Homo sapiens: one gene and its partners. The protein of the gene in region 3 interacts with the protein of the main gene of each other region in a pairwise test. Each region holds a gene or a part of one and is shown on either strand. Other genes may lie near its edges. The genes, in order: KIF1B, NDUFV2, VSX2, JPH3, PRPS1, APBB2 and LRIF1.

Evidence for each region.
Region 1: the proteins of VSX2 (region 3) and KIF1B interact in binary tests that used the Homo sapiens proteins (3 or more experiments, as listed by UniProt).
Region 2: the proteins of VSX2 (region 3) and NDUFV2 interact in a two-hybrid assay, tested with the Homo sapiens proteins (one large-scale study listed by IntAct).
Region 4: the proteins of VSX2 (region 3) and JPH3 interact in binary tests that used the Homo sapiens proteins (3 or more experiments, as listed by UniProt).
Region 5: the proteins of VSX2 (region 3) and PRPS1 interact in binary tests that used the Homo sapiens proteins (3 or more experiments, as listed by UniProt).
Region 6: the proteins of VSX2 (region 3) and APBB2 interact in binary tests that used the Homo sapiens proteins (3 or more experiments, as listed by UniProt).
Region 7: the proteins of VSX2 (region 3) and LRIF1 interact in binary tests that used the Homo sapiens proteins (3 or more experiments, as listed by UniProt).

The regions. Positions count from the first base shown.
Region 1 is NC_000001.11:10,294,070-10,297,569, reverse strand, and holds part of KIF1B (kinesin-like protein KIF1B), read right to left. Parts: intron 2,485-3,500; coding exon 2,405-2,484; intron 1,911-2,404; coding exon 1,804-1,910; intron 989-1,803; coding exon 905-988; intron 674-904; coding exon 493-673; intron 397-492; coding exon 324-396; intron 1-323. UniProt on the Homo sapiens protein: Has a plus-end-directed microtubule motor activity and functions as a motor for transport of vesicles and organelles along microtubules.
Region 2 is NC_000018.10:9,109,199-9,112,698, reverse strand, and holds part of NDUFV2 (NADH dehydrogenase [ubiquinone] flavoprotein 2, mitochondrial precursor), read right to left. Parts: intron 662-3,500; exon of another isoform or gene 1-661.
Region 3 is NC_000014.9:74,238,275-74,242,248, reverse strand, and holds the start of VSX2 (visual system homeobox 2), read right to left. Parts: upstream 2,801-3,974; 5' UTR 2,688-2,800; coding exon 2,318-2,687; intron 1,068-2,317; coding exon 983-1,067; intron 1-982.
Region 4 is NC_000016.10:87,644,008-87,647,507, reverse strand, and holds part of JPH3 (junctophilin-3), read right to left. Parts: intron 3,251-3,500; coding exon 2,473-3,250; intron 1-2,472. UniProt on the Homo sapiens protein: Junctophilins contribute to the formation of junctional membrane complexes (JMCs) which link the plasma membrane with the endoplasmic or sarcoplasmic reticulum in excitable cells.
Region 5 is NC_000023.11:107,638,510-107,642,009, reverse strand, and holds part of PRPS1 (ribose-phosphate pyrophosphokinase 1), read right to left. Parts: intron 2,716-3,500; coding exon 2,532-2,715; intron 1,109-2,531; coding exon 1,010-1,108; intron 1-1,009. UniProt on the Homo sapiens protein: Catalyzes the synthesis of phosphoribosylpyrophosphate (PRPP) that is essential for nucleotide synthesis.
Region 6 is NC_000004.12:40,823,043-40,826,542, forward strand, and holds part of APBB2 (amyloid beta precursor protein binding family B member 2), read right to left. Parts: intron 2,929-3,500; coding exon 2,845-2,928; intron 718-2,844; coding exon 602-717; intron 1-601. UniProt on the Homo sapiens protein: Plays a role in the maintenance of lens transparency, and may also play a role in muscle cell strength. Involved in hippocampal neurite branching and neuromuscular junction formation, as a result plays a role in spatial memory functioning.
Region 7 is NC_000001.11:110,957,423-110,960,922, forward strand, and holds part of LRIF1 (ligand-dependent nuclear receptor-interacting factor 1), read right to left. Parts: intron 1-3,500. UniProt on the Homo sapiens protein: Together with SMCHD1, involved in chromosome X inactivation in females by promoting the compaction of heterochromatin.

The DNA of each region.
Region 1 (3,500 bases), on a different chromosome or scaffold from region 3:
CACCACTGAAGCAAATTCCAAAACCACTATCAAGAGGCAAAGGCTACCAGAAAAGCTCTATTTCCTTAAAAAGTATTTGGTTGTAACAGAAGTTAAGATTTGGCTTTAAGACATAAAAAGCCCAAAAGAGTACCTCTGTGGACTATTTTTTCAGGCTAAGGCTACCGGGAGATTTAAGTTCATTCTCCATTAAGGAAATTAAAGAATAGTGCTTGGTATCATTGAGACAGAAGCAATTTGGGTGAGTACTGCTCTGTGGAACAGGGAAAGTATGGGAACAAGCTGCCCTTTTCCCAACAGTTTAGCAGATTCAGGACTCCTACCAGTCTCTGCTGCTCCAAAAGAAGATCTGCTTCTTCCTTCTCCTTTTTGTATAAGATCTCCATTTCCTGTAGCCTAGAAGTAAAAAAAAAAAAAAAAATTCAAGAATGCTATTAGTATTACATGTTTAAAAGAAGAAACAGTCATATGGGCTGCGTAACTGTGCATTACCTTTTCTCCATCTCTTGTTTCATATCAATTCCTTGTTTTTCCAGAAGCTCCCTCTGGGCAAATGTCCAGTCCACAGGCTCAGAGGGGGTCTCAGCAGAAGGAGTCTTCTCTCGCTCAGCTCGTGCTTGTTCCGGGTGGTTAAAGCGGAAAACATGGTTTTTACCCATGATGATACGGTTTCCTAGCACAAAACAGAAAAATAGGGTTAAGAAATAATTTTTTTAATATATAGTATCTATTTAACAACCTCACCCCTCCCTAATGTGAAAAGACAGCTTTCAGAGCTGTTGTTTTTACAAGAACAAAAATCCTAATGCTGACTATTACTTCAGCCTTTAAACAGCCAAAAATTAGAGTTGTCACAGAAGCCATGTGCACATTGCTGAAGATGGCAAACCTCTCCCAGTCTCACCTGAGCGCAGCTGAACAGGCTGGGACACCCTCTTGCCATTTACGTAGGTTTCTGAGCGCTCACAGGGCTCTAAGGTCACGATAACTAAGAGGAACAAACACAAACTAATGTTATCATTACAAACTATTGGAATCAAATAATGGAAAGCAGTTGCTTATCAGGATTTGCAGTAAGTAGAATAAATCCCTGCAATCAATCAAGTGGCTGAAGTTGTCTATACAGTAGTTCATTTTGGGGTACCAGAACTAGCCCCAATAGAAGAGGCTATCTGTGGCCATGGCTAACACAAGAACATTTAACTCTATTTGATAAACCTAAGAAGATGATAGGAAATATTAGTTTCAGGGATCTCTGACGGTTCAGTCAATAAAACTCAGAACCATCAGAAATTGTAAGGATGAGATATAGGTAATAACCAGAAACTAAAGACTGAGAAGCTAATATTTTGATAAGGGAATGAGTGACTTATATAACAGAAAAAAACCATTAAATTGTTGTTTTGTTAATAACCCAGGCAAAAATCAAGACTGACTTTTTCTTCCCTTTTAGATAAAAATAAATTCTGCTGGGTTGACTTAATGTCCTTCAAATCTCCTATTACCCAGGATATCTGCTATTTTCTTACTTTTCTATTAAATAATTAACATTCCAGACCAAGCCTAATTGCCTATGTCCTTCTCAGTTCTTGGCAGTAAAAAAGGGCTTCTTTTGTCCAAGCTATTTTCATGTAAAGCAGCCTTGTCCATCTCTGCATTCATAAGCAGCCCAGGTCTCTCCATTTTTCAGAATTAGATTGTATAAGAAAGTACTACTGATAGACAGAGAATACAAAGTCTTAAGGATTTCTCATAATATAAAATGAAAATGTTGTTGCTGAAGCTCCAGCCAGGAATGCTCACCTTCCCCGCTGTTGCTTCTCTCACTCCGGAAGATACAATGCTCTTCTTTAATGTGAGCCCCGCTCAGCACTATGTCCTGGCGCCGCTCAGCATCTGCTTGGCCAACCCTGAACACAAGAGAAAGTGTTTCCCAGGGAAATTCAGACACAGAAAGCACTACAAACAATGAACCTCTTTATTCCAAAGAATATCCTTTGGTACGTACAAAAAAGGTATTGCCTTGTTGCATCAGAAGCTTTCAACTATGAATTCTATCCTCACATATGATCAACCTCTCTACATCAGAATAAGAAACAAGGAGCACTGATATACCAATGTAACTCATACAGTATTATAAAGACATGAGTCAAATAAAATCCCTAAGGAATGTATATTTGTTAAAGGAAAAAAAAATTATTTAGGGTCTTCAGAGAAAAACTACATAGTAACTGGCTCCAGTGGCAAAAACACATTATTTGGAAAGAGAGCATAGTTTGTAACTATTTCAGACAAAAAATACAGCAAATCATTACGTTAATTTTTTCAACCCCTTCCCTTTAGTTATTCAATTATCTAAGAGGGGGAAAACACACGAAGTGACCAAAACAGGAAATAAATATACCTTGTAATTCCATCTTTGATGTAATAAAGTAGGCACTCAGACATTAGTGGGTCTTCATTGAGGTTAACAAGATGTGGGGTCTGAAAAAGATTACAGATGATCAATTTGGAGCAGGGCACCATGAGAGAGCTGTGGTAACAACAGGGGCCTACAAGAGGCCAGGCTTCTCCAACTCTCCACAGAGCCTAGAGAGGGATTTCTTTTTATCCCTAGTTGCGGTTCCATAATAAAGAGAAAACACTCTCTTCAGGCCTCACCAAACGGAACCAAGTGCATTCTATTTTATTTTAATTAATTAATTAATTTGAGACAGAGTCTCGCTCTGTCTAGAGTACAGCGGCATGATTTTGACTCACTGCAACCTCTGCCTTCCAGGTTCAAGTGATTCTCCTGCCTCAGCCTCTCAAGTAGCTGGGATTACAGGTGTTCGCCACCACGCCTGGCTAATTTTTCTATTTTTAGTGGAGGCAGGGTTTCACCATGTTGGCCAGGCTGGTCTCGAACTACTGACCTCAACTGACCCACCCTCCTTGGCCTCCCAAAGTGTTGGGACTATAGGAGTGAGCCACTGTGCCTGGCATTCCATTTTAAAACATGAGTTCTGGGATAAAAAAACAAGACCTAATTTTTGATAAGGTCAAAGCACAAGGAAAAAATGACAGGCCAATTCTCTGAACGGAATAATTATAATTTTTGTAAATGCCTGGGTAAAAATCTCAAGAAATATTTACTTTTATTAAAATGTCCCCATACCCCCCCACCACTTCCCACTATAATTTTTATCAGTTCTTCTGATCCCAGTTATTAATTTGTCTTTACCTTAAAAGATTTTAATTTATTAGTCTTTACCTTAAAGAAAAAAGTAAAATTACTGATATTCGATAAGATAAACATCTTCTAACAATCCTCTTCATCTAACTCTAATATTTCTAAAATCTTTTTAAAAAACCAACCTTCTTTAGTGAAAATAACCCACTGGAATCCAAAAATAAGTCACATGGTCTTGAGGCCAAAATCTACTCAAGAGAGTGCCAGCAAATGTGGAAGAATGAAAGAAGAGTCAGATGAGGGGGTAGGAAAAGGAACTATAAAAGAT
Region 2 (3,500 bases), on a different chromosome or scaffold from region 3:
CAGCCTGGCCAACGTGGTGAAACTGCATCTCTACCAAAAAATACAAAAATTGGCCGGGTGTGGTGGCGCACACCTGTAGTCCCAGCTACTCAGGAGGCTGAGGTGGGAGAATCGCCTGAACCTGGGAGGTGAAGGTTGCAGTGAGCTGAGATCACACCACTGCACTCCAGTCTGGGTGACAAAGTGAGACCCTGTCTCAAAACAAAAACAAACAAAAAAACCCAATGAAGTCTTTAGTTCTTTCCCTGTCTTACTATCACCACTATTTCAGACATTATTTCATGTCTGTGCATTACTGTAAGTCTTCTGGCTGATCCCTTTTTCTCAATCCAAAACATCCTGTCTAATATCACCAAACTAATTTTAAAAGTACCATCCTTCTGGCCAGGCGCAGTGGCTCACGTCTGTAAACCCAGCACTTTGGGAGGCCAAGGTGGGCAGATCACAAAGTCAGGAGTTCGAGATCAGCCTGGCCAATATGGTGAAACCCCATCTCTACTAAAAATACAAAAATTCACCGCGTGTGGTGGCGCACACCTGTAGTCCCAGCTACTTGGGAGGCTGAGACAGGAGAATTGCTTGAACCCAGGAGGTGGAGGTTGCAGTGAGCTGAGATCGAGCCACTGCATTCCTGCCTGGGCGACAGAGCGAGATTCTCTATCAAAAAAAAAAAAAAAAAAACCCTTCTGATGCTGAGTGTGGTGTAAAAGATGACCAACACCAAACACGTTCTAGTATATGAAATGTCAATTTCATCATTTCTAATAAACACATTTTCCACATTCTAGCACCTCTGAAGGTGGGATGTATCACTGTTATCTAATATTCCATAAATATCCTATGTATGGAGAGACAATATAGCAAAATGGCTAAAAGCTCAGCTCTAGAGCCTGTTTCCTCATTTATAAAAACAGAAAAATAACGGCATGTACTTCATAGGGTTCTTGAGAGCATTAAAAGATGTACTTCAGGCCGGGCACAGTAGCTCATGCCTGTAATCCCATCACTTTAGGAGGCTGAGGCGGACGGATCACCTGAGGTCATGAGTTCGAGACCAGCCTAGCCAACATGATGAGACCCCATCCCTACTAAAAATACAAAAATTAGCTGGGCGTGGTGGCACGTGCCTGTAATCCCAGCTAACCAGGAGGCTGAGGCAGGAGAATCGCTTGAACTCAGGATGCAGAGGTTGCAGTGAGCCCAGCTCGTGCCACAGCACTCCAGCCTGGGCAACAGAGTGAGACTCTGTCTCGGGGGGAAAAAAAAAAGATGTACTTCATGTAAAGTGCTTAATATTCTGCTTGGCAGATGGTAAGTACTGTATTAGTGTTGGCTATCATTAGCTATTATTATTAGAAGTACTATGTGTCAGGCACTAAGCTTTTTACACATTATTTAATTCTTAAAGTTTCCTGCAAGGTGGGTATTATTCCCAGAAATTTAAATGAGTTATGAAAACTTCTCAAGGTTAGGTCACATCACTAATTATTGGCAGAAATTATGTTAGATCCTAGGGCCAGATGATTACAAAGGCCATGACCTTATTATTAGCCACCTGACTGTTTGATGACATCAAAGCTTTAAAAGAACATAGTAGGTCTAAGAAACCAAGGAGTTTAAGGAAGAAAATCAGGCCTCCATATATACAGGCAGGCAGATAAGAAATGAAAAGCCCTGCCTCCTTGGCTTACAATGCTCCTGTTAAGAGAGAAAGATGCAAGTTATTTAATCTTTTTTTAATCCTTGCCACCCTTCTCTTCTATTCCTGCAAAAAACCTGAACGTATACACACTAGCATAACATTTGAGCAACTTAATTTCAAAGTCCGAAGTCGACCTCTTCAAAGTTGTATAAGAAGGGCTGAGATAATGTTTATAAAATAAAAGAAGCTGGCCAGACACGGTGGCTCACACCCATAATCCCAGAACTTTGGAAAGCCAAGCCCCATAGATCGCTTGAAGCCAGGGGTTTGATATCAGCGTGGGCAACATGGTGAAACCCTGTCTCTACAAAAAATACAAAAGTTAGCCAGGCATGGTGGCACATGCCTGTAGTCCCAGCCACTTGAGAGGCTGAGGTGGGAGCATCGCTTGCGCCCAAGAGGTTGAGGTTGCAGCGAGCCATGATCATGCACTGCACCCAAGCCTGGGAGACAGAGTGAGACCCTGTCTCAAAAAAGTAGTAAGTAAACAAACAATAAAGAAAGAAACAAACTAAATAGTGAAGATAAACTGATAAATCTTAGCTCTCGGTTTTTTTCAACTGGCATAAACTGTTATTCATCCCTATCAAGTTACAGGTGGCCTGAAAATGGCTTTGAAAATTGTTTTTTTGGTGTGTTTAAAGAATATCACCTATTTTACATTCATTGTAATGTCTACGTCAGACACTTTCAATAAAGGAATAAAACATTAAAAGTTCTCATTAACATCTTTACACTACTTACTGGGCCATTTCAATTTTGTTTCACTTTGAAATAAAGAGGCATTCCAGGACCAGGCTTAAAACTGGAAAAAACAACCTAGCTAGGCTGGAATGATTCAAAGAATAAGCTGAGTTCCCACCCACCCCCTTCTTTGAGTACAGTCTAGTCTTTTCTCTAGAATCTAGCTTCTCATTAGACTCTGAAATGTCTATACCTCAAGAAATTCCAATTGAGTCCAATTGAAAATCCAAGTAACTTCCTTTTTTTAAGAAGAAAAGCATGCAACCAAGTAACTTTTTTAAGTAAATAAGATCATAACCTAATATACAGCTCAAAATTAACAGTGGGTTTGAATTCTAGCTTATTTTTTTTTCAGTGTTTCAGAAGGAAAAGAAAAGATTTAAGCAGGCCAAAACAGTGACTGCCTTTTCGTTGGAGTCAAGTAAACTTGAGTGCCTCTGTGTTAAGCTCTTCTACATACTTTTTTTCGTCGATTCCTAAAAAATCTGTAGTGAGTCATTATTTCCATTTTACATTTAGAGAAACTCAGGCTCAAAGACAGTAACTTGCCCCATACCGCACAATTAGTGACAGACCTGGATTTTGAGCCCAGGCTCTTTCAATCTAAGGGCCCTGTGCTCTTTCTACCAGCCTTTCCCTTTTACTGTCACTGGCAATACCAATAGCTCAAAATGACAAAAATTAAAGTTTTATATTCTCCCCAATAGGATTCCTTAATTGTCTTTTCATGGGCTCTACTCTTTTTCTGAATTTCTTCTGTTGTTCAAACAATACTACCATCCAACGAAGCTCACTTTTCAGTTCTATCAGACATTTGCATTATAAATGCATCCAGCTAAGAGAAGTTAATAAGAGACTAAGAAGCTGTAAGACAAAACTGACAGAAGCAGTAATCTAATTAGTCAGAAAGACAAGACTAAGGTCAGGCAATTCAAAAACCCTTCTTTTTTCCTTTATTAGAGGCCAACTAAGGCAAGGAATATACCTTTTAGATGATCCCTAATATTTACAGATTAAATCCACCAAGATATCTATTTGCCTGTGCAAGAGTCAC
Region 3 (3,974 bases):
TGATGGGGACGGAGTGGGGTGCGGGGAAATAGCTCCGAGGTGAGCGCCGGGGCAGCACCTGCGAGCAGCACCCGCAGAAAGGCAGGCAGATTTTTGGTTCTTTCTCCTTTATTTCCTTGAAAACCACCTTACAAATGTACCCAAGGAACTGGTAGCAGTGCGGCTGGTGCGGAAGGGAATGAGGGCGGGGGTGGGAGAAGGGTAGGTTACTTTTCAAGATATACCTGTCGGCATCTACTGAGTTTTAACTTTGTGCAAGTAATTTCCATTTAAAGACAAAAACAAAACAAAACAAAACAAAACAAAACCCTTTCTAGTCTGTACCCCGATGCAGTCCACCCTACTCCAGCTACGGCTGGTGGGACCGTCCAGTCTACATCGCCTACCACTCCATTTTGCAGACGAGGAAACTGAGGCTCACAGAAGGGAAGCGACTCGGTCAGAATCACGAATGAGCAGAAGCCAAAAGAAAATGCTCTGTCAGTGCAGAGATCGCTCCAGCTTTGGAGAACGGTGGGAGCAGAAAGCTTAGGGAGTTGGCAGAGAGGACAGGGACCCCGGGAGAGAAATGGGGGCGGCGGTTGAGGCCGAGGGCAAAGAACCGGCTCTGGCAGGAGGTGGGAGCTAATCTGCCCGCCGCCGGGTCTGTGTGGCTCTCAGAATGTACTGGTGCGGGGATCTGGGGACCGCCCCCACTCTGTGGCTCAGTTTGGCCTGTGTTGGAGCCTTTCCTTTCTCCTGAACAAGGAGGAGAAAGCCCGAACCGGGCCGCTTTCCCGGCGGCCACTCATCCTGCTCAACCGGTGCCGACGCCAAGGCCCCCGGGCAGATTCCGCCAAACAACCCGTGGTCTGCGCCCTGGCACGGCCTCGGACCTCAGATCCGTTGTCGGCGAAAATAGGGTCCGAGAGACCCGATCCCGGAACGGGGGACGGCAGCGGGGTGCGCGGGCAGGAGAGGTAACAGAAAGCGGGGGCCTCACCTGTGTCGCCGCTTCTTCCGTTTCTTGGTCTGGTTTAAAGCAGATTTGGACATTTTTCGATCGCTGGAGGAAACATCTTCAGAATCTGAAAAGCGGGCGTAGGGACATGCGGCAGAGTGGGGGACGCGCTCCGCTGTGCCCGAAACCCGCGAGGGCCCCACCCCGGGCTGCCTCCGCGAGCGGCGGGGACCTGCTCTGTCTCCCCAGGAAGCCTGCGGGCGCCCCGGTGGCCGTCCCATCCCTGAGCTCAGGCTGACCTCTCCCGCGCCGGGGCCCGAATCCGGAGGTTTTGAACAGATTTCGTTGTAAGAGAGGCAAAGGCCCCGGCGCGCTTGGGACCGGGACGACGGAGAGCGAGGCAGCCTTAGGGGGCCGCAGAGATCCCCGGCAGCGCTCGCGACCCTGCTGCGCCCTGCCCTGCGCGGCCAGCCCCAATGCCCCGGGCCGGAAAGTTGGCCTCGAGGAGCGAGGAGCGGAGCGGAGGCGTGGGGAGCTGGGCTCCGGGAAGACTGGGGGCTGCCGAGCACCGTCCTTTTCGCAAGGCGGCACAATGCGTCCCTACTCGAGGCCCGAGAGCCTGCGACGCGCTGGTTTTCGTTGCCTTTCCACGTAAAACAAAGTAAAACGCAACGAAAAATCGGGGGAATTGCCAAGCTCAAACAGGAATCGGAGGTTCGAGCGGGCCGCGACACACCTCCCGGAAAGCAGCGCGGGGAGAAGGCGGAGAGGTCACCCAGGGTCCCCGAGCCCGCGCGTCCCCGGGCTCCAGTATATAGTGGCGCTTACGTGGGAGAGGATGGCGGCCGCTTTAGCTGCCGCGATGGCCGGGTTGTCTGAGCTCGTGGGGGTGAAAAATAAACCCCAGTTGACCAGCGCGGGATTTGGGAATCAGACAACTTTGGACACCAGGGATGGGGCCGGAGCCGGAACAGCATCGGGCTCGAGGAGTGCGGATCCTACACCAGGCCGGGGCCGCAGTGGAGCAGCGGTGCTGGGGCCCTCCGACACGGCCGGCGACTCTGCACCACGGGCTCCGACACCCCAAACCCAGTTTTCAGTGGGGCTCCAACAGAGTGCCGTGGCCGAGCCCTGCCCGACGCGGGGACTGGAGAACTGCGCGGCCGCCCGAAACGCTTGGGGCCGAAACCCTGCGGACGCCGAAGCATCCTCCCGGGCCCCATCACCAGGCGCGTCGGCCCAAGGCCCAGGCGGCGACCCCCGGCCTGGCAGGAACTTTTCCGCCTGGAGGCCTGGTCCAGCAAGCGAGAGCCGACGGCGCGGGGCTCCCGGCTGTCGCCCCCCAGTCAGGCAGCAGCGCAACCTCTCCTCACCTACCCGAGCTGGCCGTCTGGCTGGTGTCCAGCGGCCCCGATGCTCTGCCCAATGGCTGCAAGTGGACGCTCTGCGGGTCGGACAGCACTTCCAGGAAGGTGGGCTGCGTGTAGAAGCCAGGGAGCCCCCCGGGCCCCAGAAGCCCCATGCCGCCCACCCCCGCGGGGCTGAGCACTGAGCGCGCCGCCAGCAAGTGCCCGGGGGCCAGGCCGTCGAGCGCTGCCCGCGGGTGGGAGCTCGGGGGCTCCTTGTTCAAGCCCAGGATCTCCTGGATGCCGAACCCAGTGCACCTGGCCGGGGCGCCCCCCGAGGTACTCTTGGCCACTGTCTCGGATTTGGGCTTGCTCAGCGCTTCCCCTGCTTTCCCCGTCATCTCCCTGTTCTTTGGAGGGGCTGAGGCCGCAGGTCTTTAGCTCCCCCCACCCCCCCGCCGGGCTTCCCGCTTCGCGAAGTTGGTCCCAGGTGCCCCCTCCGGTGTCTAATGCTCTGGAGCCCAAGGAGATTCCCCTTTTATCCAACCAGGCGGCAGCCCAAGTGGGGTCAGAGCTGAGCAGCCAATCACCGGGGCCAGGAGCGATTAGGAATTCCAAAAAGCTGGCAGCTCCCGCCGCAGGCAATGTCGAATGGCCAGGGTGCTGGGGGTGGAGCACCGGGTGGGCTCTGCAGGATGCCCATGGGCAGGGACCCCAGGGGCCGAAGTGAGACAACCAGGTTCAGGTTCAGGGCTGTTCCGGGAGGCAGAGTGGCTTGGGGCTCTGGGCAGATTCTGGCAGGGACAGGTCCCTGAGGTCAGGTGGAAGGATGGGCTAAGGGCAGAGGTGAGAGACTGGGAGACCTCCTTCCCTCAACTCCTATGCAGGTTGGCAGCATCAGGGCGGCCTGAATATGGCACCTCTGTGTAAACGGTTGAACAAGGGAGAGGTAAGTGCTGGGGCAGTGTGTGTGGTGGTAAGCTGGGAAAAGATCAGGCCAAGGTGTGCAGAGGGTGATGTAGGGGTAGGGAAAGTTTGCTTCCCCAGCACAAGGTATAATGCCTAGTTCGGAAGAGCTACTCAACACATATTGGCCCAATGAATGAATGATAAATGGGTCAGAAAGAGGGGTCCCTGGTGGGAAAGAGGAACAGTGATGATTACTTTTGGAGAACAACCATGGACATCCAAACCTCTTCCTAGAGTAAGCATGAAGCATGCCCAACTTTCATGGGAGGACTTGATTCTTCCACCCAATTCATTCGACTAATATGTATTGAGCTACTAGCTCCGACCTGGTAGCCAGGGGTTCCGCAGTAAATCAGACAAGGCAAGGGCCCTGCTATACTTCAGAGTTCATTGAGCAAACAGAATGAAGAGGAAGGGATTGTTGATGTGGAGGGAGAGGAAGGAGGAAGCGGGTGAGAGGAAATTAAAAGGTAAGCTGCTTTCCCCTGCACTCCACCACCTCAGCTAACTCTTCTGTGACCTTCTTGGGGCTGGGAACTATCTTATCGACCTTGAGGCTCCCTTCTTCACTGCGCCTAGCATATGGTCAGTTCATGGTAGGTTCCTTGAATTGAAGGCACCCTATGGGGAGATAAGGACTAGGTCCATTGCTTTAAGCAGAGATTGGAAAACCAGGCTGGGAAGATTCCATCCAGGATTTCTTAGCCAGTCAGGTGCAA
Region 4 (3,500 bases), on a different chromosome or scaffold from region 3:
AGCATGGGCTGCTGGGCCTCAAAGGCTGTCGGGGGGTTGGCAGGGGGTGGGCTCCGTCAGTTTCACAGCTGCACCAGCCTGCAAACCCATCCTTTCCCTCTCACTCCCTCCACCCGTCTGTCTGTCCTTCTGTCCATTAAGTAAAATGCCTCCCCAGGAGACACAGGGATGCTGGCCATGCCAAGGCTGGCTGGCCAGCGTCCCAAGGGCTGGGGACTCAGTAGGAGCCGTGCCCACCCCACCCTGGCCCCGGCTCCTTTGCATGGGTCTCAGGTCTCGCCCTCCCGGCCCAGCCCCTGGGCTTTCACCCCAGCATGATGCCCACTTATACGTAGGCATCTCCCCCAGCAATGCTCCACAGAGCCCCTGGGCCCCCCAAAACCCCAGGAAGAGGTTGGATGCCCCAGGAAGGGAGCTGTTACCACCTAAGCTTCACAGGCCTTCAGAGATTAGAAGTTGAGGTCCAGAGAGGCTGACAACCTGCCTTGGAGCAGCTCCTCACCTGTGCTGCCCCCAGCCCTGTCCATGCCACCTGGGCTCCTTAATGGGAACCCGCTTCTCTTAATGTCTAGGGGAATTCGTCTGAAAACTATCTCAGGTCGCAGGTCCCCCCAGTCCTACAGACATCCACCCAGTGCCAAGGCTGTGAAATAAGCTCAGTCCTGCAGGGCACTGTCCACTAAGTCCTCGAGCTGCTGAGAACTCATGAACCAATGAACTCATGAACCAATCTGCAGGTCACACGGAAGCTGCCACGAGCTTCCTCAATTCCGTGACGCCGCTGTCCCCCAGCCCCCAAAACTGCTTCTTGTCCACTAGGGTCAAAAAAGCAACTATACAAAATAGAAAGGGTCGAAAAACAAAACACAGAGGAAAGAAATTCACCAAAATGCCAAGGAGAGCGCTCGGCCGATCCATCAGACCAGAGCTAATGCTGCTTTCTCCCTTCTCAGTGTTATTTATTTTCCTGTGGAACAAGTATTACATTTATGATGGAAAAAATAACTACTGATTCTAATTTGTTCTTAAAACCCCAGATGAGTAGTCACACGTGGGCTGCTGTTTATTTCCCTGCCTGAACATTTCTGAGGGAGCAGGGAGGGGCAAACAGCGAGTTTGGACCTCGGTGTCAGGTAGTAATTCCATGTTTCTTTCAGCTTCTTGGAATCGATCTTGATTCCCTCTAAAACAATAGAAGTCGCGAGCAACATATTCTGCCAACAAACCGCAGCCACCATTTTTGTTTTTCACTATAGATCAAAGGTCACTGAAAATCAGAACCAAATGGGCTGAACTTTAATTAGCGACAGGTCGGGAAGGGCTGAGCCGCACCCAGGCTGGGAGCTTTCCTGGAGGAACTCCAGGTCTGCCCCTGGCTGAGAACACAAAGCCATCCAGAAAGACGCAGGGGAACGTGCCCTGGGAAGCCTCCTGCCTGGGCAGCCCATGGACTCCCCCGCAGCTCCCAGATCCCTGCCCCAAGACTCTCCGGGCTACCCCAAGGGCCCTCGTCTGGCCCAGGAAAGCAAATGCCGGTGGAAAGCAAAGGCTCTGGGTTTTCTGAAATGCCTTCCCAAGTCTTGACAAAGCCCTTTAGTAACCTCAGTTACTTTAGAACCCAAATGCCTACCTGTGGGGCCCGTGGCTTTCCACAGGGGAACTTCCTCCAACCTGCAGCAGGTGGCTCCTGCCAGCCACAGCTTGGCGGGGACCAGCCCCTGGCTCACACACTCACCTCCACAGGAGCCAGACCCTGGGCACCTTCCTCCAGCCCTAAAGGCCCCATCCTGCACCCACCCCTAAAGGTACCCAAAAGCCACGTCGATCCCACCCACAGTCACCTCTGGACCCATTCCTTAGGGCCTAGAGGCCCCACTGGACCCCAAATTCCGTAAGTCATGCAGCCGATTCAGAACAGCGGCTGCCCCCAAAGCACCAGGCCTGCATGAGCCCCTTGCCAGGCACTCGGAATTGGCCTCCCAACTGCTGCCATCTCCCAGGGTCCCGGAAGAATCTAGATCGCAGGTCTGGGTAGCTGAGGCAGCTCCTAGCCACCTCCCACAGCCCTGCAGTGCTGGACCTGCCACCCCCACCTGGTGGTGTCACCCCTACTAGCTAGCACAGCAGCACTCCAATGCATTGTACTAACGGAACAGACCACCTTCTTTATTCACCAATATTTTACACTAAACATCAGCATATAGAACAAAGAGACACTGCTCAGTTTAAGGAGGCTGTAGGCCTCTACACCCCCACAAATCAACCATTCCTCTGCACCAATCCTGACCACAGTCACCTCTGAGAACCTCCAGGGAACCCTAGGGTTCCATGGGGGCATAGTTTGAGAAACACCAGTGTAGGCCTCAAACTGGGCCTAGCCCAAGGCCTTGAGCGACAGCAGGACTGAACAGACTGGGCTCACAAACACCTTCTGGGCACCAAGAAGGGCCCCCCGCCCCCTCGCCCTCCTACCTGGAAGCCGCGATCTCAGCCTTCTGCTTGGCGATGGTGGCGGCCCGCTCAGCGGCCTCAACGGCGCGGTCCACCTTCTCGCGGATCTTGCTGGCCCGCAGGGGGATGAGGTTCTTGCGCTTGCCGCCGACGAGGATGTTCTGCTTGTACTTGCCCTCCTCCTTGGTGCCGTCCGGGAAGGTCATGCAGCCGTAGCCATGGCGCCGGTTGCTGGCCCACTCGCCCTCGTACTTGAGCCCGTCCGAGCGCTGGCTCACGCCGAAGCCGGAGCGTTTGTCGTTCTTCCACTCGCCCACGTAGGTCTCGGTGGTGGTGGCGTCGATGTCGTCCTCGATGACCGCCAGCTCGGCCTCAGCCTCGCCCAGGCTGATGGTGGAGTGGATGTCGCTGGCCGTGGAGCTGACGGTGCTCATGCCCGCCTCGCTGCGAAAGGAGCTCTGCTTGCTGCGTTGGCTGGCCAGGCTGCTCTTGGACTCCGACTTGCGCAGCTTCAGCCCACTCAGCAGCGAGCGCCGAAACAGCCCCTTCTTCTTGCTCTTGAGGATCTCGGAGTCACTGTGGGCCACGAGCACGAAGCCCCCGCGGGACACGGCCGGGCTGCCGGCCACCGCCGGAGAGGCGTCGGGATGCAGCGCCGTGCCGTTGGTGTGCTCGCTGCGCAGGGAGTTGATGGACGTCCTCAGGGGTGAGCGGATGACCGCGGCCATGCCATACGGGACGCTCTGCCGGACGCCGTAGCCCTGGCGCATGCCACCGACCCACTGGCCCTGGTAGGTCCCTGGGGAGAAAATGAGAGAGGGGTGAGTGCCCAGCGACAGAGGAGGGGGCACAGCCTGGCCACGGACAGGGTTGAAGCAGCCACAGTCCTGTCTGAGCTTCCTGTTGTTTTGTGTTTTTTGAGACAGGTTCTCGCTGTGTTGCCCAGGCTGGAGTGCAGTGAGACCATCACAGCTCACGACAGCCAGGAACCCCTGGGCTCAGGCGATCCTCCTGCCTCAGCCTCCTGCGCAGCTGGGACTACAGGCGTG
Region 5 (3,500 bases), on a different chromosome or scaffold from region 3:
GTTAAGGAGTAAAAGCTAATGGATAAACCAGTTAGAGATGCTATGGCATATAAACTTAATGGAAGCTACTTATGATAAATAGTCACAGTGAATAATTAGAAATCAGGAGATCTGTGTTCTAATTCTAGTTGATACAAATTAGTTGTATTTCTCAATTAAGTCATTCCTTTCCATAAAAGGAGTACAGTCCCTGTCCAATGTACTTCATTGAATTCCCACAAGCTTGAAATGTAATGATTTGAAAAATCTCTTTGAAAAAATATAAAATAAAGGTGGTATTCCACCCCCCTTACTTTGGGTTTATGTTGGAAAGTAGGCTCCAATATCTGTGGCTCTAAATTTAAGACCATGAGGCCAGGCACGGTGGCTCATGCTTGTAATCGCAGCACTTTGGGAGGCTGCAGCAGGCAGATCACTTGAGGTCAGGAGTTCGAGACCAGCCTGGCCAACATGGTGAAACCCCATCTCAACTAAAAGTACAAAAAAGTTAGCTGGGCCTGGTGTCAGGTGCCTGTAATCCCAGCTACTTGGGAGGCCGAGGCAGGAGAACTGCTTGAACTGAGGAGGCAGAGGTTGCAGTGAGCCAAGATCGTGCCACTGCACTCCATGAATATTCAAGGAGAATAAGAATGATAATAACAGCTCCTATCTATGAGTACCTGTCATGGGCCAGGCATTATAATATGAATTTAATGTTTTATACTCACAATAATGAAAAAGTATATGTTCAGAGAAATTAAGTAACCTTCCCAAGCTTACAAAGCTAGTAAATACCAGAGCCTTTATTCAAAGTAGTGCTCTTCCCATAAAACTAGACTGCCTCCCTATCTAACCACCTGAAATGACTAAGATCATGAAGTATGCTTAAGGTGAACACATTTAAAATGTTGTTGATATCTAGTTTATTTCAGATGTACTTGGGCATAATTTTTGGCTTCTCTGCAGTCTTCAGCATCATCAGTCCTTTCCTCCCACCTTTCAAACACCAATATTTAGCTTCCACTGATACCTGAATTTGAGAAGCATGTAGGTCCATGGTGATAATATGATCTGCACCTGCTACAGATAGCATATTTGCAACAAGCTTGGCTGAGATTGGCGCCCGGCTCTAAATGGAGGGGAGGAAAGAAAAGAAAAACCAAAAAGCCAATTTGAAAAACAATTCATTTACTCAAGAAACTATTTATTGTGTACCTACTATGTTAAAGGCACTATGGTACCCAGAAATTCATAGAAGGAGACATGTCCATTGACTTTAAGTGGATCATAATTCAGAACAAATATTAAGTGGAACATCACTTTTCCAAATCAGGATACACTTATCAATAAAGAAAATGCTTTCCTAACTTTTGTTTTCTTAATGTACACATTTTCAATCCTATTCAAGTGTTTCCAATGCTCAATTATTCAAACTAGGCAGACTTTAAAAAATAATTTTATTAAAATCTCTTTCAACACATACATATGTAAACCTTTAACACCTAACATGTCAAGGTTTGAAGATACATCACAGAATAGATATTATAGTTTCCTTTGTAAATCACATCACTACTTACTCATCTGGAGGTCAACTTTCCAACAACTATGAACTCCTCAAATAAAACATACTTGCTGCACTGTAAAATAGCAAAGTCCATGCATGCCTTTTTTTTTTTTTTTTTTTTTGTAGAGACAGAGTCTTGCTCTATCGCCCAGGCTGGAGTGCAGTGGCATGATCTCAGCTCACTGCAACCTCTGCCTCCTGGGTTCAAGCAATTCTCCTGCCTCTGCCTCCCGAGTAGCTGGGACTACAGGCGCGCAGCGCCACGCCTGGATAATTTCTTTTGTATTTTAGTAGAGACGGAGTTTCACAGCGTTGCCCAGGCTGGTCTCAAAACTCCTGAGCTCAGGCAATCCTCCCGCCTCGGCCTCCCAAAGTGCTAGGATTGCAGGCGTGAGCCACCGCACCCGGCCCATGCCCTTTACTTTATACTCTGTTGGAATAAAAATATCTGACCTTCTTCGAGGCATTGTGTGTAAAATTGGGCATTAATTACAATAGACTTGCAAAGTTTTATGTATATGCCTTATCCTCTAATATACCAGGATAAGGTGAGAGATATATATAGTTTATCTATCTATCTATCTATCTATGTATCTATCAGATCAAGTATTCATATAACAGACTTCAAGTTTTATGAAGAGGTCACAACTAGGATCCCAATCTTACAGTTTGAGAGGATCTACCGTAATTTTAAAAATATACTCCAGTACTCCAGAGGAGTTGGTGCTTAGTCTTACTGATACAATTAAAAATACCAGTGAGCTAACTGAAAGTTATATATGTATCACTGTAATAAAATACAGACTACAAATGTGTTGCTTTATACAAACCAATTATATTTCTATTGTTTTGAAGATAGGGTAATACCTAAGAAAAGGTGATTTTTAAAATTCCCCCTAAATATATATTTGATAATTTTGGAATTTATTTGTGATTTGGGGCAAGTGCTCCTGCTTCCTCTGCTCAAAAAATAAAATTCTGCTCCTACCTTATCTTTCTTATCCTGCCGGGCATAAGGGAAGCATGGGATGACTGCAGTAACCCGGCTGGCTGAAGCAATCTTGCAGGCATTAATCATGATCAAAAGCTCCATTAAATTGTCATTGATTTCGCCACAACCACTCTGAACAATGTAGACATCCTCTCCACGTACACTTTCACCAATTTCCACACTACAATGAGGAAAGAAAGAACATGAAATAGATTTTAAACCACTGTACTGTCAGCCCTCCATATCCATAGGTTCCACATCTATGGATTCAACCAAGTGTGGATTGAAAATATTTGGAGAAAAAATTGCACCTGTATTGAACATGTACAGATTTTTTTCTTTGTCATTATTTTCTAAATACAGTATAACAACTATTTACGTAGTATTTATATTGTATTAAGTATTATAAGTAATCTAGAGATGATTTAAAGTATATGGCAGGGCTGGGCGCAGTGGCTCATGCCTATAATCCCAGCACTTTGGCAGGCCAAGGTGGGTGGATCACTTGAAGTCAGGAGTTCGAGACCAGCCTGGCCAACATGGCGAAACCATGTATCTCTACTAAAAATACAAAAATTAGAAGGGCATGGTGGCAGGCGCCTGTAGTCCCACCTACTCAGGAGGCTGAGGCACGAGAATCGCTGGAACTCAGGAGGCGGAGGTTGCAGTGAGCTAAGATCACACCACTGCACTCCAGCCTGGGCAACAGAGTGAGACTCTGTGTCAAAAATAAAATAAAATAAAATAAAATATATGGGAGGGCCTGGCATGGTGGCTCAGCACTTTGGGGAGCAGGGGGCAGGGTAGAAGGAGGATCATTTGAGCCCAGGAGTTCAAAACCAGCCTGGGTAATACAGTGAGACCCCATCTCTACAAAAAATAAATAAATAACAATAAAGTATAAGGGAACATGTGCATAGATTATTTCATATGGCCGGGCGTGATGGCTCACGCCTATAATCCCAG
Region 6 (3,500 bases), on a different chromosome or scaffold from region 3:
CTTTCCCTGGCAGGTGCTTCACAGAGGCAGAATAGAAAAGTGGGCACAAGTCTGGGCCAGGTTGCCTGGATTTAAGTCCTGATTCCATTGCTTCCAACTGTGTGATGCTGGGCAAATGACTTAGCCTCTCTGTGCTTCAATTTCTTCAACCACGAAACTGAGATAATTTGGGCTGAGGCTAATGTGGCCTCTTCTCAAGACAACCAATAGCTCCTTCTGCTACTGATAGTCACAGGACTCTCCCAAATGGAAGCATCTTCTGCTTTTCATCCCCAGATCACACAGCCCAGGCAATACTGGCGCCCTGAGAGTGAGCGACTACTAGCGTCACACACTCACCTCTAGCAAACAATTTCTCTCTGGGGCACATGAGGAAGACAGAATCAGAAGCACCAGAAGAGAAGTTTCTCAGGCCACAGGAAAACAGAGGTATGCACAGATTTAGACCCAGACAAAGGGCCAAATCTTTCAAATGTAGGCCATCTTAATCACAAGGATGCACAACTCCGGCCTTGACTATGTTCCTAAGTTCCACAGAAAACCACTGTATCTTATACTCACTGTATAAGACACACCAATGTCATCGAAGATTCCTTCTCACCTTTTCACTGATGACAGTCACAGTGGCATCAGCCACGTTCATGTTCACTGACAGCCAGTCCTCCTTGTTGGATGAGGTCATAAGATTTTCTATGGCACTGTTCAAAATATCCATTCCTGGGGACAGAAAAGGATAATTTAAAGTGTCCTAAAGCCACTTACCACACTCAAATGTGGGCCCAAATCACCAATAACAGCTACGCCCAGACTGATCTTTTTTTAATAGACAGGACACTTCATTCTCATGTTTGCTCAACAGGAATGAAATACCAGCTTCTGGCCGGGCGTAGTGGCTCACGCCTGTAATCTCAGCACTTTGGGAGGCTGAGCCAGGATCATTTGAGGTCAGGAGTTCGAGACCAGCCTGGCCAACACGGTGAAACCCTGTCTCTACTAAAAATACAAAAATTAGCTGGACATGCTTGCTTGAACCCAGGAGGCGGAGGCTGCAGTGAGCTGAGATCGCACCACTGCACTCCAGCCTGGGCAAGTATCAGTGAGACTCTGTCTCAAAAAACAAAAAAAGAAAAAGAAAAAAAAGAAATAACAGCCTTTTCAGTAGGAGAGGAGAGTCAGGAGAAGCTCCGGGGACCTGGTGCCTTAGACGCTGTCTACCTATGCAGACCATGGCCCTTCAGCCTCTCTCCACCCTCACTGTCTCTTGATGGCACCTTTACAGTGGATCCCCCCATTGAGTAGGGCCCTTTTGCCAGCTGTTTCCACAGTTTTTCTGGGGGATAGGGGTGGGAGTGACAGCTTTATTGAGGTATCATTCACATGCAATTCACTCACGTAAAGTGTGCAATCCAGTGGATTTTAGTACATTCACAGAGCGCACCCATCACCATCATCAATTTTTTTTTGAGACAGGGTGTTGCTCTGTCACCCAGGCTGGAGTGCAGTGGTACAATCACGGCTCACTGTAGCCTCAGCCTCCCAGGCTCAGATGATCCTCCCACCTCGGCCTCTGGAGTAGCTGGGACTACAGGTACATGCCACCATGCCCAGCTAATTTTTTGAATTTTTTTTGTAGAGATGAGGTTTTGCCATGTTGCCTGGGCTGGTCTTGAACTTCTGGGCTCAAGCAATCCACCTGCCTTGGCTTCCCAAAGTGCTGAGATTACAGGTGTGAGCCACCATGCTAGACCTACCATAATCAATTTTAGAACAGTTTCATCACCCCAAAGAGAAACCCCGTGCCTGGTAGGGGTCATTCTGCATTTTTCCCCCACTCCCCAGACCCCTAGACCAAGGCAACCCTTACCTACTTTCTGACGCTAGAGCTCTGCCTATTTTGGGCGTTTCATATGAACGTAATCACACAGTATGCAGTCTTTTGGGACTGACTTCCCTCATAGCATGTTTTCAGGCTTCATCCACGCTACAGCGCACTTCAGTCCTTCATTCCTTTTTATTGCCAAATAAAATTCCACTGTATGGAAGTATCACATCTTATTTATCTAATTGTCAGTTGATTTGTCAGGACATTCAGGTTGTTTCGCTTTTTGACTCTCATCAATAATTCTGCTGTGAACATTTGCATACACGTTTTTGCATGCACAAACGTTTTCACTTCTCTTGGGTCTACGCCTAGGAACTGAGTTGCTGGGTCTAAAGTAACTATGTTTCACCTTCTGAAGAATGCCAGACTGTTTTCCAAAGCAGCTGCACCATCTTACAGCCCCCTTGGCAGTATATGTAGCTTGCGATTTCTCCACAGCCTTTTTTAGCCCTGGTGAAGGCTTCATCTCCCAGTCTCTTTTTGGCTTGGTATAGCCCAGCAACTACACTCTGCCCCTGGCATGTGAGCTGAATGCTGTGTGTGCCACTACTGTGTCACTCCTTGACAGCATGAAGCCTCCACAGTCCTTTCTCCTGGCCCGCCAGCTGACAAGACACGAAGCAGGTGCCCTGGCCTCAGAGATGGAGGCCTCGTTTCAGAGCAGCGGAGCTCTTCCACGGCCCTGAGTCACACAGCTCTGGACTACTGGGTAAACAAGAAATCCACGTCTGTATTGCTAAAGTCCTGCATGCTGGGGATGACAGGTCAAAGCAGCGGGGCCTGTCCCTCTACTCATCTTTTGATCAGGACCGTTTATGTTCTCTGGCAGGTGACAGTGTGACAGTTTGATTCAAGACAAGGCGTGAGAGTAAACAGCAGACCTCACCCTCCTCGGAGGGCGAACGCCTCCTGTGAGCTCCCGCACACTTGCAAAGTGGAAAGACAATAAACATTTCACATACCGACTGGTTTGTCTACAGGTAACATGCCCAAGTACTGCACGTGGAACTTCTGGACCAGCTCAGTCTTTGGTGTTGGAAAATCTACTACAGGGAACAAAAGCAACACATCTTTCTCAGTGGTTCCAACACACATGTACACAACAGCCGTGGCTCTGCATCATCTGAATGCTCAGGACACGCCCTGTGCCATAACGCCCTATGTTTCTGGATGTAAATGTAACAACTATTCTACAAGAGCAGCATTACTCCAGATATTGGGGCTCTGTTAAAATCCTGTTCAACTTTCAAGATAGGAATGCATGTGAAAGCAGGAAGTGGCATCTATGTGTTAAAGCTGCTACTGTCTCTTTGATGTATATTAAGTAAAGTAGCAGCTTTTGGTGTCCTATTTAATTAGGTGTGGTTGATGCCCAGAGAAAATGTAACCTCAAAGGGCACAATCAGAGACATAGGAAGATAACTGAGTTCCCCCAGTAATCAACCCACGTTTTTTTTTTTTTAGAGACAAGAGTCTCGCTCTGTTGCCCAGGCTGGAGTGCAGTGGTGCGATCTTGGCTCGCTGCAACCTCCATCTCCTGGGTTCTAGCAATTCTACAGGTGCATGCTGCCATACCTGGCTAATTTTTTGTATTTTAGTAGAGACAGGGTTTCACCAT
Region 7 (3,500 bases), on a different chromosome or scaffold from region 3:
ATCGCGCCACTGCACTCCAGCCTGGGCGACAAAGCAAGACTCAGTCTCAAAAAAAAAAAAAAAAAAAAAAGACTGCAACAATTCTCACGGCTTCAACTATTTTCAACTATCTTCTTTGGAATAATGACTCCCATAGTTATATCCTTTTATTCCTGTCCCCTACTGGAATTGACATCAGTTCCATATTTGTGATGTCTTACCAAACATTTTAATCCCATCACTTTAAATCTACGAAGTTAAAATTACTCTCTATTGAAAAGTAGTAGTCTATCCTACCATTCAATCATATGGCAGCGCCAATATTTTCCACATCATATAGGTTTCAAATCACCTAGTCATTGCTGATTTGTCTTTATCATCATTCTTATTTACTTTAAATTCATCCACAGAACCTTGCATATGTCCTTACAAAAGGCAAACATTTAATAAATGCATACTGAATCATCAAGTCTATACGGTTTTCTTTTTAACCCATTTCATCCATCTTTTCTTTCTTCATCATTGTGACTTCCACCATCTACATGAGATCCTCATCAGATGTGTCTAGCACTCATCATTCTCATCCCTACAGTATTTTGCTGATGTTGTTTTTCTGATTGCAGCCACTATTGACTATTATGTATCTCTGGCAGACTAAAATTGTTTTCATCCTGTTATCTCTTGTTCAAAGTTTTAGTATTCATCATTGCCAATTCAGCTGGACGCGAAAATCATCTACAATCTAGCTCCAACCAATCTCTACAACAATACCACCCACAACTTCTCAATGTGAAATCTCTGCTCTTACCAGAGAGATCTCTTTGCTATTCTGGAATATGCCATGTATATTACATTATTTACTCAAAGTATTATTATTTTTCTTCTCCAACAATATAAAATTAGTTTCCAATTCTATCTTTTCCATAAAATATCTGCCAGTCACTCCAGCTTAATTTCTTCCAACTTGGAATCCCGAATGTACTCCCATTGGTGCTATTAATGTTGGAAATTATATAATGCTTTCTTTATTGACTTTAATCTATTAGCTAATTTTTTAAAATGAGTATTGTTTCATTCAATAAGACTGAAACTCCTTAAGGTGAGAGGCTTTATAATTTATTTTGCAAATATCCTTCCAATACCAAGCATAGTATTTTATATGATGTCTATATTTCTGCTTTATAAAAAAAACTATACTGTGTGAGCTATTTTCCAATCTGATCACTAAATTTTTCCCTCTCTTTTCCTCTATTTCACCTCCAAAAAATAAAAAAAAGGAAGAAAAATTAAGCTTCTTCCATGTCAGTGTATCAGTGAGAGTCACATAATCTACCACAGACCATAAATTCCTGCAGGGTAGATTATCCTATTCATATCTATATACTCCGCATCTAATTCAGAAACTGGAAATTGCACACAATAATGTTAGCTGAATTGAATCCTACAAGGTATAATTTTTTTAAAAATCCATGATTTCTTGGCAACAAAATGTAATGAGTTCTAAAAATTAATCTGCAGAATGCTAAGAAGTAATAACTCAGGATGAAATTCGTACTCCTTCTATCAATATACAGTTTTTCATATCTAGAAGGAGCCTTCCATTGAAGAGATTAAATAATTAAAGTCCTACAAAGATTCTGTTTTCTGAAAGATCATATTCTGCGGGCTAATGTCAGAACTAAAACTAGAACCAGATTCTGCATCCCATTTTCTAGTCTGGTCACCTAATTACTTTAAAGTAATTACTTTAAACCAGCTGGTGTTCAAACTGAGAAACTACATTTGAAAAATAATACAGTTTAACAGTTTAAAAGAGAAAAGAGGAACATATTAGAAAGATTACAGGCTACTAATTCTGGTTCTTATAATTACAAGTTGACTAGAAAATGTACTTATCCTCTTTGAATCTGTTTCTTCATTTGTTAAATAGGGGAAAATAAAGCTTACTAGGAGAAGTAAATGAAATAACTGCCTGGGAGCATAACAGTTATCATCTTCCATTAAAATATGCAATTGGTCTCTGAGAATAAGGTAAGATAAGGTCTTTTAAAAATGTAATGAGAAATATGGCCGGGTGCAGTGGCTCATGCTTGTAATCCCAGCACCTTGGGAGGCTGAGGTGGGCGGATCATGAGGTCAAGAGATCGAGACCATCCTGGCCAACATGGTGAAACCCCGTCTCTACTAAAAATACAAAAATTAGCCGGGCGTGGTGGCACACGCCTGTAGTCCCAGCTACTTGGGAGGCTGAGGCAGGAGAATCACTTGAACCCAGGAGGTCGAGGTTGCAGCGAGCCACTGCACTCCACCTGGCGACAGAGCGAGACTCCATCTCAAAAAAAAAAAAAAAAAAAAAAGAATGAGAAATTTAATAAAAAGGCACATTAAACATATTGGTAATGTTATATAACTTCTGACATTTTTTACTATTCTAATATTGATATGAGGCATTCATATATTAGAAATAGACTAATAAAAATGTTGAAGGCTGATGAACATTTTATAGATATTTTTGCAAAATATATTTTTTTCAACTGCTAGGAAATCCTTTTCTTACTATCTATGACATAACATTATATACATATAGAACATAATATATCTAAGTACATAACATAGTTATCTATCCAATAATATGTACCATGTATTGCGTACATGATAGATATACCAGTTGTTACTAACTCTAATCCTAATAAACAGTCAAGAAAGTTATGAACTGCCATTCCCATTTTATACTTGAGAAAATGGAGATTTGGAAACATTTAATAACTTACTTAGAATTACACACTCCCCTTGAGAAAGCTTATCTACTTTCTATATTTACTTTAGCATAACCCCATTATAACAGGGTCCAAAAAATTCAAATGTATAAACTAAGAGATTAATGACAGATTTCATTTAGACTCTATAGTATGTGTGTCTGTCTCTCCCTCACACACACACAGACACACTCAAATCACAAAATAAAACACTGTACACAACAAAATGCATACTGAACTGACAATGAAGCATCATCATTCCAGTCAAACCAAACCCCCTGCTGAGAACACTTAAGTTTAGCTCCCCATTTGAATACAAATGGTTATGGGAAGATAGCTGCCAATGGCCAATCACATGATGTCTTAATTCTTATTATTGTAGGATATATAATCACAGGCTTTCATTATAGTACCTCTAAGGTGATGCTTCCCAAATCTCTAGTCTCAGCTCTGACTCAGCCTGAGTTTCATATTCAAATATCTGACTGCTTTCTTGATGTGTTCCTCATCTCAGTTAATTTACCAATATCCACCCAGAAAACTGGCATCATAATTGATCCCCCTTTCTTCCTGCCAATTCATTAACGAAGTCGGTCTATTTTCCCTTCTATATTTCTTTGAATCCAACCCCTACTGTACTGTACCAGCTAGTTCAGGCCCTCAGAATTTCTGAAAAGACAACTGAAATAGGATCCTTATATGTAGATCACTCACCCTCAAATCCAGACTGCCAACGTTATCTAAAATGTACACCTGTGTCAGTCT